Linked DNA regions of Homo sapiens. The protein of the gene in region 3 purifies or fractionates together with the protein of the main gene of each other region. This does not show direct contact. Each region holds a gene or a part of one and is shown on either strand. Other genes may lie near its edges.

Region 1 (3,746 bases), on a different chromosome or scaffold from region 3:
ACTTTCTCTAGGTCAATGCCAACATCTGTGAAAAAGGAATCATCTAATGACTACACAGAATTGCTATGTAGTACCTCTCACATGGAATGCAGTCAAAAATGTTTATGTGATAAATATATCTTCATCTCCATTACTCAAGGACTAATTCACTTTGTTTGTGGACTACTTAAACTCTTTGCTTCTATTTTCCTAAGGTTCAACCATTCGAGTTAACTACACAGTGTCCAACGACAAAAGATAAAGCAATAAGAAAACCTACTTTCAATTGCATATTTATTAGCAGCATTATGGTATAACAGTTAAGAGCTTAAGCTCTGGAGTCAGACTGTCTGGATTCAAATCCTGGTTTTATCTTTTACTAGATGCATGATTTTGGGTAAATATTTGGCCTCTCTGTGTCGCAGTTCCCTCTTCTGTAAAATAGTGACACTACATATTCTCTTAGGGTTCTTTGAGGATTACAGGAGAAGATACACATAGAGCATTCGTACACAGTACTTGGCACATAGTAGATGCTCAATAAAATTAGTTTATTTTTTGAGGCAGGGTCTTGCTGTGTTCCCCACACTGGAGTGCAGTGGCATGATCACGGCTCACTGCATCACTGCAGCCTTGACTTCCTGGGCTCAAGCAATCCTCCCACCTCAGCCTCTTGAGAAGCTGGGACTACAGGTCCACAACACCCGCTCAGCTAGTTGGTTTTTGTTTTTTTAATTTTTTGTTTTTGTGGGTACATAGTAGGTGTATATATTTATGGGACCGGCTAGTTTTTCAATTTTTTGTAGAGACGGAGTCTTGCTCTGTTGCCCAGACTGGTCTTGAACTCCCAGGCTCAAATGATCCTCCTGCCTCAGCCTCCCAAAGAGCTGGGATTGAAGGCATGAGCCACCCCAGCCAAGATGAGCTTTTTAAACAGAGATGCTGGAGAAAATGAAATTATGGCTAAGGTTAAAAAAAAAAATAGCTGAGATCCTTACACAACATCAAAAAGTAAAAAAGTAGGATTTCTCAAGATTTCCCACATTATCTTAGATACCAAGAAAAAAAAAATCGACTGTAGAGGTAGTAATTTGAAGTCCTCAAAAGAAAAATCATGCATGTGGTTATATTCTTTTAAAAGGGGGATAAATAAGAAACTTCATCTACTGACAGTATACAATTATGCAGTACGGCACAGGTGCAGCCAAGCAAAAAGAAAAACATGAAGCAAAATAGGAAGGCACTGCCTTACCTGCTTCTCCGTTTTCGAGGCGGTTTCTCCACTGTGCCAGTCAGTCTGCAGACCAAACAAATAAGACGGTAACTAAAAGTAACATACAAGAAAACATCTCCCGGCGCTACCGTGCCAGTCAAGAACTAAATAGACCACCCTCTGGGACCACAGGCTCGCCAAGCCCAGATCTGACCTTACAAACGCCTCATGCCCTGTTTCCCCTATTTACCAAGACCTAGCATTCCTGGGACTCACCGTTCCCCCAATTCCCCCTGAGCTCAAACCTTCCTGGTCCCTCACCCCATCCTCGACCCCTGCTCGTCACAGCCCAGCTCCCCAAAATCACCCACCTCCACCTACTCATTGTCTGCCTCGTCACCCCCGCAAGCCCCCCTAGCCTCCCCTTTCCTGTGCCCACCCGTTCCCGACCGTGCACTGCCCCCTCCACGCCCCGCCTCTCCGGGCCCGGCGACCCCCGCATTCCACGGCCCCTCCGGGGGCGCGCCCGCCTTGCCCCTCCCGGCCCCGCGCCGCCAGCCTCACCCCTCGGCGCCCCTTCCCTCACACGCCCCTCTCACCTGGCCTCGAGGAGGCGATCGCGCCCAGCCCGCGCCGCCGCCTGCAGGCGCCCCCAAGGTCCCCCCAGCCTGCACCCCCCGCCCCTCCGGTCTCTGCGCCCCGAATGCTCCACCGCCCCGAGCCGCTGCCCCTGGGCCCGCTCCCTGGCCCCCACCCCATCCCCAACCCCGGCCTCCACCCAGCCCCCGCACCTGGGGGCCAGGCGACTCCGCGGCTGCTGGGGCTGCCGGGCTCCTCTGACCATCCGGCTCCTGCTCCGCCGCGGGAGCTGCTCCGGCGGCCGCAGGGCTCGCTCGGGAAGCTGAGGCGGCGGAGGCTGGAGTAGGCGGAGAGGCGGGAGGAGGGCCTCGCGCCTCTGCCAGGCTTGCCGCGGGGCCCGCCTCCTCCGCGCCTCTCCTCGGCTCCCATTGGCTAGAGCAGTAGTGTGGACGGAAATCTGTCAGTCGATTGGACGCTCGGCCCGTCACATCCCGCGCTGCCCACCCAGAGGTTTGGTTGAGACTGCAGGTGGCGGCGGAGGTGCCTTAGAGATTGCTAGCAGGGCCGGAGGAGACCCTAGCGCCACCATGCGTCTAAAAGTAGGAACTGCACCCCCGGCTCCAGACACCTGCCCCAGGTTCTCCTGGCTCTGCGTCCTGCATACCACACACCTGCTGGCGCCCCTCCACCTCTGCACCACGCCAGGACCGAAAACAAGCCCTGAAATCTCCCAATTTCTTCTAGCAGGTGAGACAGTGAGGCAACTCTCACAAACGTGTTTCCTTTTAAGCCACCTCGAATGCGATCCTTGTCCCTACATCTTGCTGAAATTGTCTCACAGCTCACAGCTACCCCTCAAAAAGGACCCAGCCAGAAAACTCTAAGAATCCACCAAAATAAAGCATGGTTTGGATGCTCAATCCTCTGCAGAAAAGCTCACTAGCTTGGGTGCAGGCTTTTAAGAAAGTAAGATTTTTTTTTAATTACCATGAAAGAAAAATCAGCACTACAAACAGAACCAATGCCATACTAAAAGCAACGTGTTCCATTTTGAAAGGCCTGGACAAATTTGATCCCTGAATGGAAGCTGACCATCCTGATTGTGTGACCATTGCAAGTTCTACACCAATTAATCAATTTTAAAATAAATTGTACTGTATTTTTTGACAAACAGGCATGCAAAACTGCCTTTCATAAGCATAGTTACCCTTCTTCTGCTTTAACAAAGCCATCCTTGAAAATAAGACTCAGCTCATTAACGTATTATAAAATTCTTGAAGGTGGGAAGGCCTCTCTAAATCTCTACTCCTGTGTGAACTTGTTTGGTATATTCTCAGCATCTGTTCAGAGTTGGGAGGAGGCATAAAACTTTCTCTTAAGTCACTTCCATTTTATTAGAACATCTTTTATGCCTCAATAATATGACAGCGTCGAGTAGTACATGTCAACATTGGGGTGGGGAAAATCTCTCATTGATCTCCATAAGCGGCAAAAATTAGGATACTAGTTTTTCACAAAACCAAATGTATTTGGTGTAAAGAGTTGTCTTTTCTTCTGAGATGGTCCTACCTACATCTTTAATGGTAAAATGACTTTCCATTTATGAAGTAATACTGACGGTAAATTGTAGTAGGAATTGAAAAATTGCTTTGAAAAAATGTCAAATCTCTGTTGGTCCCCCAAATTAGTATTTCACGTAATCCTAAAGTCACAGAACCACAAATCACCTCAATCTCAACTAACAGTTTCCACCCATATTATCAAGCCAGAGAGAGGAAAGAACTCGAGAATAATTTGTGTCAGACGAAGGGGGATCATCAACTCACTAGGGAAGTAATCTTGAAATACATTTATTATATTCCTTATTAAAAATCCATTGCCTGCTTTTTAGCATCTTCCATAATTGACCAATCCTCACTGATATATGGCAGATATTGTCAATAAAACAGGACCTATTCATTTCTTACGCCTTCCC
Region 2 (3,646 bases), on a different chromosome or scaffold from region 3:
TGGCTCCTTCCCTTAAGCTATGTCCATCAAACCTAGCTCCTCCTATCATCAGTCTTGGCTCTGTCCCTTAAGCTCTGTCCATCAAACCTAGCTCCTCCCACCAGTCCAGGCTCCTCCCCTCAAGCTCTGTTCATTAAGCCTAGCTCTTCCCCCCAGCCCTGGCTCCTCCCCTCAAGCTCTTCCCATCAAGCCTGGCCCCTCCCATCAAACCCAGCTCCCCAAAAAGGCGCTACTCTGGCCCTTGAGGATTTGTGTACACAGCCCACCCTATCCTAACGCCTAGCATCTGACCTCAAAGTCCCACCCATCGTGCGTGGCTTTTCCGGGACCCCATTTCTTGTTCCTTCCCTTAAGGCCCCACCCATGAACCACTGGCCCCGCCCCCTCAAGCCCCACCCCCCCCGTCAAGTCCCTCCCATCTGCAGGTTCTTCCTTTTCCCAGGCCCTTGGGGGCCGAGGTGCGCCTCCTGCAGCTCTCAGGTCTCACCCTCTAGCGCTTGCCCCCACAGGGAGCCCACCTAGCTGTCATTGATGCCCTCATGGCTGCCTTTGCCTTCGAGTGGACAAAGACCCTGCCAGGTCCCTTGGCCCTGACCAGCTTGGAGCACAAGCTGCTTTTCTGGGTGGACACGGTAGGTGGGGTTGGGCCTGGGGTGGGTTCGGGGACCAGCATCGTCCAGTGGCCAGACCACTGACCCCCTCCCTGCCCTCCAGACCGTCCGGCGGCTGCAGGAGAAGACCGAGCAGGAAGCGGCCCAGCGAGCCTCTCCAGCAGCCCCTGCAGACGGGGCGGCCCCGGCGCAGCCCTCGGTGAGGCCAGGGCATAGAACCGTCAGAAGGATGGGGGACCGGAGATCTGGGAGGGCAGGGCTGTGCTTCCTGGACACTCCTGAAGTGGGGAGGGGGCTAGAGGTGACACACTCTCTCTTTCTTCCCCCCTCTCTCAATCTCTCTGTGCCCTGCCCGTCCCCTGTGCCGGTACCCGCTGCCCTCCTCTCTGCCTCTCTGGCCTCAGTGCCCTACGCGCTGGTACTGGAAGCTGGTTCCTGTAAGTGGGGCTGTCTGTCCGCCCCGTCTGCCTGCCCTGCTTGTAGCTCTGTCTGTCTGTATGTCTGTTTCTGCCTGCCTGTCTGCGCGCCCTCTCATACCTCCCCAAGCTGTGAGCAAAGGAGGTTGGACCCCAGTCCTGGGAGACAGGGAGAACCCCTCTGTGAACCAAGAGAAGGGTAGAATCTCGGCCATTAACTGAGAGGGCAGACCCCTCCCCCAGCGAACTGATGGGTGGGGACGAACTTCCCCTCCCGTTATTCAGAAGGGCAAGCCCTCCCCGTTCCCATTAATGAAGAGGGTGGGACCCCCTGAACCTGTCCCCCTTAGCCGAGGTGGGGAGACCACATAAATTTCTGAAGGGGGGACCTGCAGCCCATCACAAACGTGGATCCTGACCCTAGCAGGCAGGGCACCCTCTGGCCAAGGGGAAGACCCTCCAATGCAGAAGAAGATAGAATAACTTTCCTAACTGAGACCCCCAGCTTCCCTAGAGAAAAATCCCAGCTTTGAAAAGGAGGAGGAGGCCCATCCCTGAAGCTGGAAGTTGAAATTTCTCTCTTCCCTGAATGAGCTGTGTGACCTTGCAGAAGTATCTAAACCTCTCTGTGCTTCATATAAATTACTCCCATAGTAGATAAACAAGGAGGAAGTGGGGGAGGTTTTGGGCTGGCTGGCGTCCCCACCTTTGCTCACTCCTTCCCCCACCCTGGGGCCTGGGTTGGGAGGTTCCCTTCCTGCCTACCCGCTTCCTCTGCATCCTCTCCCCAAGCTGGGGGCCTGGGTCTTTTGTGGGAGGAGGATTCCCCGCATAAGAGGGGGTTCCTACTCTGTGGGGTCCCTTGGGGCTGGGAGGAGCTGGGGTTCGCGAAGCCGGCCAGAGCAGTCAGGGAGCTGGACGGCCGGGGCTCAGGACCAGGGTCAGGGCTACCCCCTCCCCCCCAAGGTGGGCTTGGGGGCCCAGCAGGTCAGCACCCCTCCCCCTTGCTGATGGCTGCTCCTCTCCCCCCAGCACGCAATTGCCTTCTGTTTGAAGGAGTCGGGGAGCAAACCCCCCATGGTAATGTATCCCCCGCCCCGGGGTCCCAGGAGTCCCTGTCCCCAGCCCCCGCTGCTGGCCTGGCTGCTCGAAGACATCTCCTCTGCCTCTTGCTGCTGCCCCTCCCCTGCTCCAGGCTGGCCCCCCAACTCTGTCTCTGGGACCCCCAGCTTCCCGCCCCCTCATGGCGGAAACCCCAGGCCTCCCTGCCCAGCCTGCATGACCGCTGACCCTGGGGGCCAGCCTGGCCACTCACCTGACCTGGCTCCCATCTGCAGATCCGATACCGCAAGGACCGTGTGGTGGCGCGACGTGCCCCCTGCTTCCCGACGGTGACCAGCCTCCAGGACCTGGCCAGTGGGGCCGCGCTGGCCGCCACCATCCACTGCTATTGTCCCCAGCTGCTTCGACTTGAGGGTGAGTAAATGGATGTGGAACAGATCTTGTGCCGGGGAGCTGGGCATCCTAAGTCCCAGCCCCTAGACCCTCCATCCCCAGGTCCGCGAGACCAGCAACGATGCAGTGGTCATGAGGGCAGCTTCCGGAACTGGCAGGCCTGAGTTTGTGTCTCTCTCTTCCCCAATGAGCTTTGTGACCTCACACAAGTATATAAACCTCTCTGTGCTTCCAGGAGTTCATTCCTGCAGCAGATGAAACGTATGGAGTGTGGACTGTGTGCCAGACCTTGTTTTAGGCACTGGGGATCCAGCCAGAATAGAGACACACTCCCCACTTCACAGACGGCTCTAGCTGGGAGAGAAAGATACTAAGTTTATCCAAAAGTACTTTTTTTTTTTTTTTTTTGAGACGGGAGTCTTGCTCTGTTGCCCAGGCTGGAGTGTAATGGCATGATCTCGGCTCACTGCAACCTCCACCTCCCAGGTTCAAGCCATTCTCCTGCCTCAGCCTCCTGAGTAGCTGGGACTACAGCCACACGCCACCACGCCTGGCTAATTTTTGTATTTTTAGTAGAGACGGGTTTCACCGTGTTGGCCAGGCTGGTGTCGAATTCCTGACCTCAAGTGATCTGCCTACCTTGGCCTCCCTAAGTGCTGGGATTGCAAGTGTGAACCACTGCACCCGGCCCAGAAGTACTTTTTGCATACTGGGTAGTCCTAAAGGCAATGGGTGGTCAGAAAAAGCTTTTTTTAAAAAAACTCTTTTTTCTTTTTTATTAAAAAAAAAATTATAGGGCTGGGTGTGGTGGCTCACGCCTGTAATCCCAGCAGTTTGGGAGGCCGAGGCGGGTGGATCACGAGGTCACGAGTTCAAGACCAGCCTGGCCAGGATGGTGAAACCGTCTCTACTAAAAATACAGAAATTAGCCGGGTGCGGTGGCGGGCGCCTGTAATCCCAGCTACACAGGAGGCTGAGGCAGGAGAATCGCTTGAACCCAGGAAGTGGAGGTTGCAGTGAGTCAAGACCATGCCATTGCACTCTAGCCTGGGCAACAGAGCGAGACTCCATCTCAAAAAAAAAAAAAAAAAAGTATAAAATAGAGATGGGGTCTTGCTATGTTGCCCAAGCTGGTCTTGAATCCCTGGGCTCAAACATCCTCCC
Region 3 (3,469 bases):
TAAGCCAGAAATATATGTAGTAAAAGTAAAAGTTCCCTTGGCACCCTCCCTGCAGGTAACCCCAGTTAATAGTTTGAACGTATCCTTCCAGACTTTTTGTTACTCACTTAATGCATATATATATATATATATATATATATATATATATATGTATGTATGTATGTATATTACATATACCAATCCATGCATAGTTTTCTTTTTCCCCAAGTGAGGACATACTGTGGGCTCTTCCTCGGCAGCTTCCTTTTTCCTCTCCGTTTGTCTTGGAGAGGTTGGTTGTGTGGCGAAGTCCTTCAGGGCAAGTTCTGGGTTGACTCCTGGCTCCACCACATACTGAACAGGCCATTTACCTCTCTGTGCCTCAGTGTCCCCATCTTTACAATCAGGAGAATAACAGTACAGACCTCACGGTACTGAAGTAAAGATGCAGTGAGTTAATCCATATGAAGTTTAGAGCAGTGCTTTTGCCAATAAATGCTGATTGCTGCCGTCATTGTTGTATTGTTATTGCTGTTCTATCTCCATGGCAGCCCATGTTTGAAATGCATTGCTTTCCACAGCTGCCTGTGGCCATGGCATGGGTGTCTTTTTCCTCCCCTATCCAACGTGTGGCTCCACAGGGAGGGAGGAGGTGCAACAGCAACGGTGTGCGCAGAGCAGCGTCTCTGCGGGAGAGGCACCTGGGCACTGGGCCCAAGGGAACAGGGATTTTCCAAGGACCCACTGTTTCCAAAGTTCTGTGCTTAATGTCGGGGTCCAAGCAGGAAGCATCCCTGCACTTGACCACAAGAAGGTCACAGCCCAGTGGGTGATTGGGACCCAGCTCATAGCCAAGGCCTCGACCAGAGCTGGAGGCTTCCTGGAGGAGGGGCCTTTGAGCAGGTGCTTCAGGCACGGCGAGGTAAGAGTGAGAGGAGCATTCCTGGCAGAGGGAACACAGTGAGCAGAGCGAGTCTTTGGAAGCTGGAAGGGATGTGGCCTGTGTGCTGTAGCCAAACAAGAGGGGAGGACTTGGCTCAGAAAGAATGGTGGCGGAAGAGGTTGGGCTGTTGCTGGGACCTCCTCACTGGCCTCCCTGCCTCCATCCTGTCCCCTCCCAGGTGCTGGCCAGCAGCACTGTCAGAGCGATCGTTCTAAACCCAGCAGATAACCTCCAGTGGCTCCTGCTGCCTTATGAATAAAGGTCCCATCTGTAGTTCTTCCCATGCTGTCCAGGGCCATTTCTGGTGTCCTCTGCCTGCCCTGTCCTCATTCAGTCCTGTCCCCTCCAGCCACAGCTGGCACCTCCTTGTTAAGGTGCAGCCATGTGCATCCTTGCCTCTGTGCATCGGGCTGGGCTGTTCCTTCCACCTGGGATGCCCCTCACCTTCCTCCCTGCCGCCCCAGACCAAAACAGACGTCCTGTCTCCTCCTCCTCTGACCTCCGAGGCAGAATGAGTCATCTCCCTTTGTCTATACTCGTGGCATAGCGTTTATCACGGAATTATCGGCAATTCTGCCAGTGTCTGTCCTCCCCATGAGGCTGAAGCATCGAGGCCTGAAAGCACGTCTCCTTGCTCTCTCCGGCCCAGTGCCAAGGGCGAGGCCTAGAACACAGGACGCTCAGAAATGCTTCCTGGCAGGAGGGCCAGGTGAGGTGGAGAGGGTGAGAGCCCCAACATTGTCTCCCGTGGGCCCCTTTGATCTTTAGCAAGGGCATGCTCAGGTCTGTGTGGATCTTGTGCTGTCAGCCTTTAGATGAGTGGGGTGAGGGGCTTGGTGGGGTCGGGGGGCAGGGGGAGGTGGCGGGCAGCTTCCCCAGGCTGCTTCCTGAGGGGGCTGGGAGAAACTGGCTCATCCTGTTCCCCAGTGATTGAGGCAGAGCTGTGCCCTGTTCCTGGTGGGTCACTGGGGATCTGAGATTGGAATGTGACACCAGGGAAGGGGAGGCAGGGTGGGAGGCAGGGCTTGGAGGTACAGGCTGGGGCTTGGCTGGCAAAGGACAGATTTCGCTCCACTGGTTCTTGAACCCGTGTGTGTGTGTGTGTGTGTGTGTGTGTGTGTGTGTGTGTGCACGCGCGCGCCGGGGAGGGGAGAGATGGGGAAGAGAAAAACATGAGGGCAGAGAGGTGGAGTGGGGGTGGAGGACCTGGGGAGTGGTGAGCAGGGACAGGGAGAGATGGAAGTGGGGGGACGGCAAGGAGTGAGGGAGAAGTTCCTGCTGCTGCTGCTGGAGAGTATGAAGAGTGTGCTTAGGGCCAGGAAGGAAAGCAGCCAGGCGCATCGTCTCACACCACCATCAGCCATGCCTTCCTTCGTCTGTCCAGCAGACAACCCTAAGTGTTCTCTTGCTTGGCTCCATGCTTGCATGGCCCCAGACAGGAGCAAGCCTGTGGTCCAGGCTTCGCACCCTTGAAGTCTAGGGGCCAGGTGAACAATGAGCATCCGGTTTCTTTCTTTTTTTTGAGATGGAGTCTTGCTCTGTCGCCCAGGCTGGAGTGCAATGGTGCGATCTCAGCTCACTGCAACCTCTGCCTCCCGGGTTCAAGCAATTCTCTGGCTCAGCCTCCCAAGTAGCTGGGATTACAGGCGCCCACCACCACGCCCGGCTAGTTGAGCAACCTCTTTCTGCACAAAGTGATCAGGCTGGGGGAGAGAAGGTGCCCAGAATGCTGTGCAGAGGCAGGAGAGGAGGGTGGAGCAGGCGAGCATGGGGTAGGGGGCAGGGAAGCCATGTGTTAGGCACTATGGTGGGGAGCCAGGACTGCTGGGGAGTCTTCCTTTCCTCTCTGGCCTCGGTCTCATCTGTAAATGGGGGAAGAGTGGACTGCTCTTGCACTGATGGTCTGTGGACCCAAGTCACCCACTCCTTGGGCATGAGAAACCAGGGACCCCGTGGAGACAGCTGATAGAACAGGGACAGCAGGCATGCTCAGAGCGTCTGCAGGCCCATGGTCAGGGGGCTTGAGGGAGAACATGCAGAATCCAGTGGAGCTTGGGTTCGCCTCCTAGAGTTCCCTTCTTGGAGACTGTGCTCATCTGGAAGGCGAGATAGGGTCGGGGTAGGGGAAGGAGCACTGGATTCGGAATCAGGAAAAGTGGTTGAGTTTTAACTGCAGCATCCCTCGGGCAAGTCACTTTCCCTCTGTGAGGGTCAGTTTCCTCTTCTGTCAAAAATGTGAACGGGCTTTGTTGTAAGCATTAAAGGTGAGCTGGGGCGCCGTGGCTCACGCTTGTAATCCCAGCACTTTGGGAGGCCGAGGCAGGCGGATCACTTGAGGTCAGGAGTTTGAGACTAGCCTGACCAACATGGCAAAACCCCATCTCCACTAAAAATACAAAAATTAGCCAGGTGTGGTGGCCCATGCCTGTAATTCCAGCTACTTGGGAGGCTGAGGCACGAGAATCACTTGAACCCAGGAAATGGAGGTTGCAGCGAGCCAAGATAGCACCACTGCACTCCAGCCTGGGTGAAGGAGACTCTGTCTCA

What was found.
Region 1: the proteins of RAI1 (region 3) and SCAI purify together in Homo sapiens (affinity purification with mass spectrometry, with the first as the bait; one large-scale study listed by BioGRID). This does not show direct contact.
Region 2: the proteins of RAI1 (region 3) and CAMSAP3 purify together in Homo sapiens (affinity purification with mass spectrometry, with the first as the bait; one large-scale study listed by BioGRID). This does not show direct contact.

The regions. Positions count from the first base shown.
Region 1 is NC_000009.12:125,141,402-125,145,147, forward strand, and holds the start of SCAI (protein SCAI), read right to left. Parts: upstream 2,128-3,746; 5' UTR 2,037-2,127; coding exon 1,984-2,036; intron 1,277-1,983; coding exon 1,232-1,276; intron 1-1,231. UniProt on the Homo sapiens protein: Tumor suppressor which functions to suppress MRTFA-induced SRF transcriptional activity. May function in the RHOA-DIAPH1 signal transduction pathway and regulate cell migration through transcriptional regulation of ITGB1.
Region 2 is NC_000019.10:7,605,762-7,609,407, forward strand, and holds part of CAMSAP3 (calmodulin-regulated spectrin-associated protein 3), read left to right. Parts: intron 1-509; coding exon 510-632; intron 633-714; coding exon 715-810; intron 811-1,015; coding exon of another isoform or gene 1,016-1,048; intron 1,049-2,059; coding exon of another isoform or gene 2,060-2,107; intron 2,108-2,364; coding exon 2,365-2,503; intron 2,504-3,646. UniProt on the Homo sapiens protein: Key microtubule-organizing protein that specifically binds the minus-end of non-centrosomal microtubules and regulates their dynamics and organization.
Region 3 is NC_000017.11:17,684,558-17,688,026, forward strand, and holds part of RAI1 (retinoic acid-induced protein 1), read left to right. Parts: exon of another isoform or gene 1-1,631; intron 1,632-3,469. UniProt on the Homo sapiens protein: Transcriptional regulator of the circadian clock components: CLOCK, BMAL1, BMAL2, PER1/3, CRY1/2, NR1D1/2 and RORA/C. Positively regulates the transcriptional activity of CLOCK a core component of the circadian clock.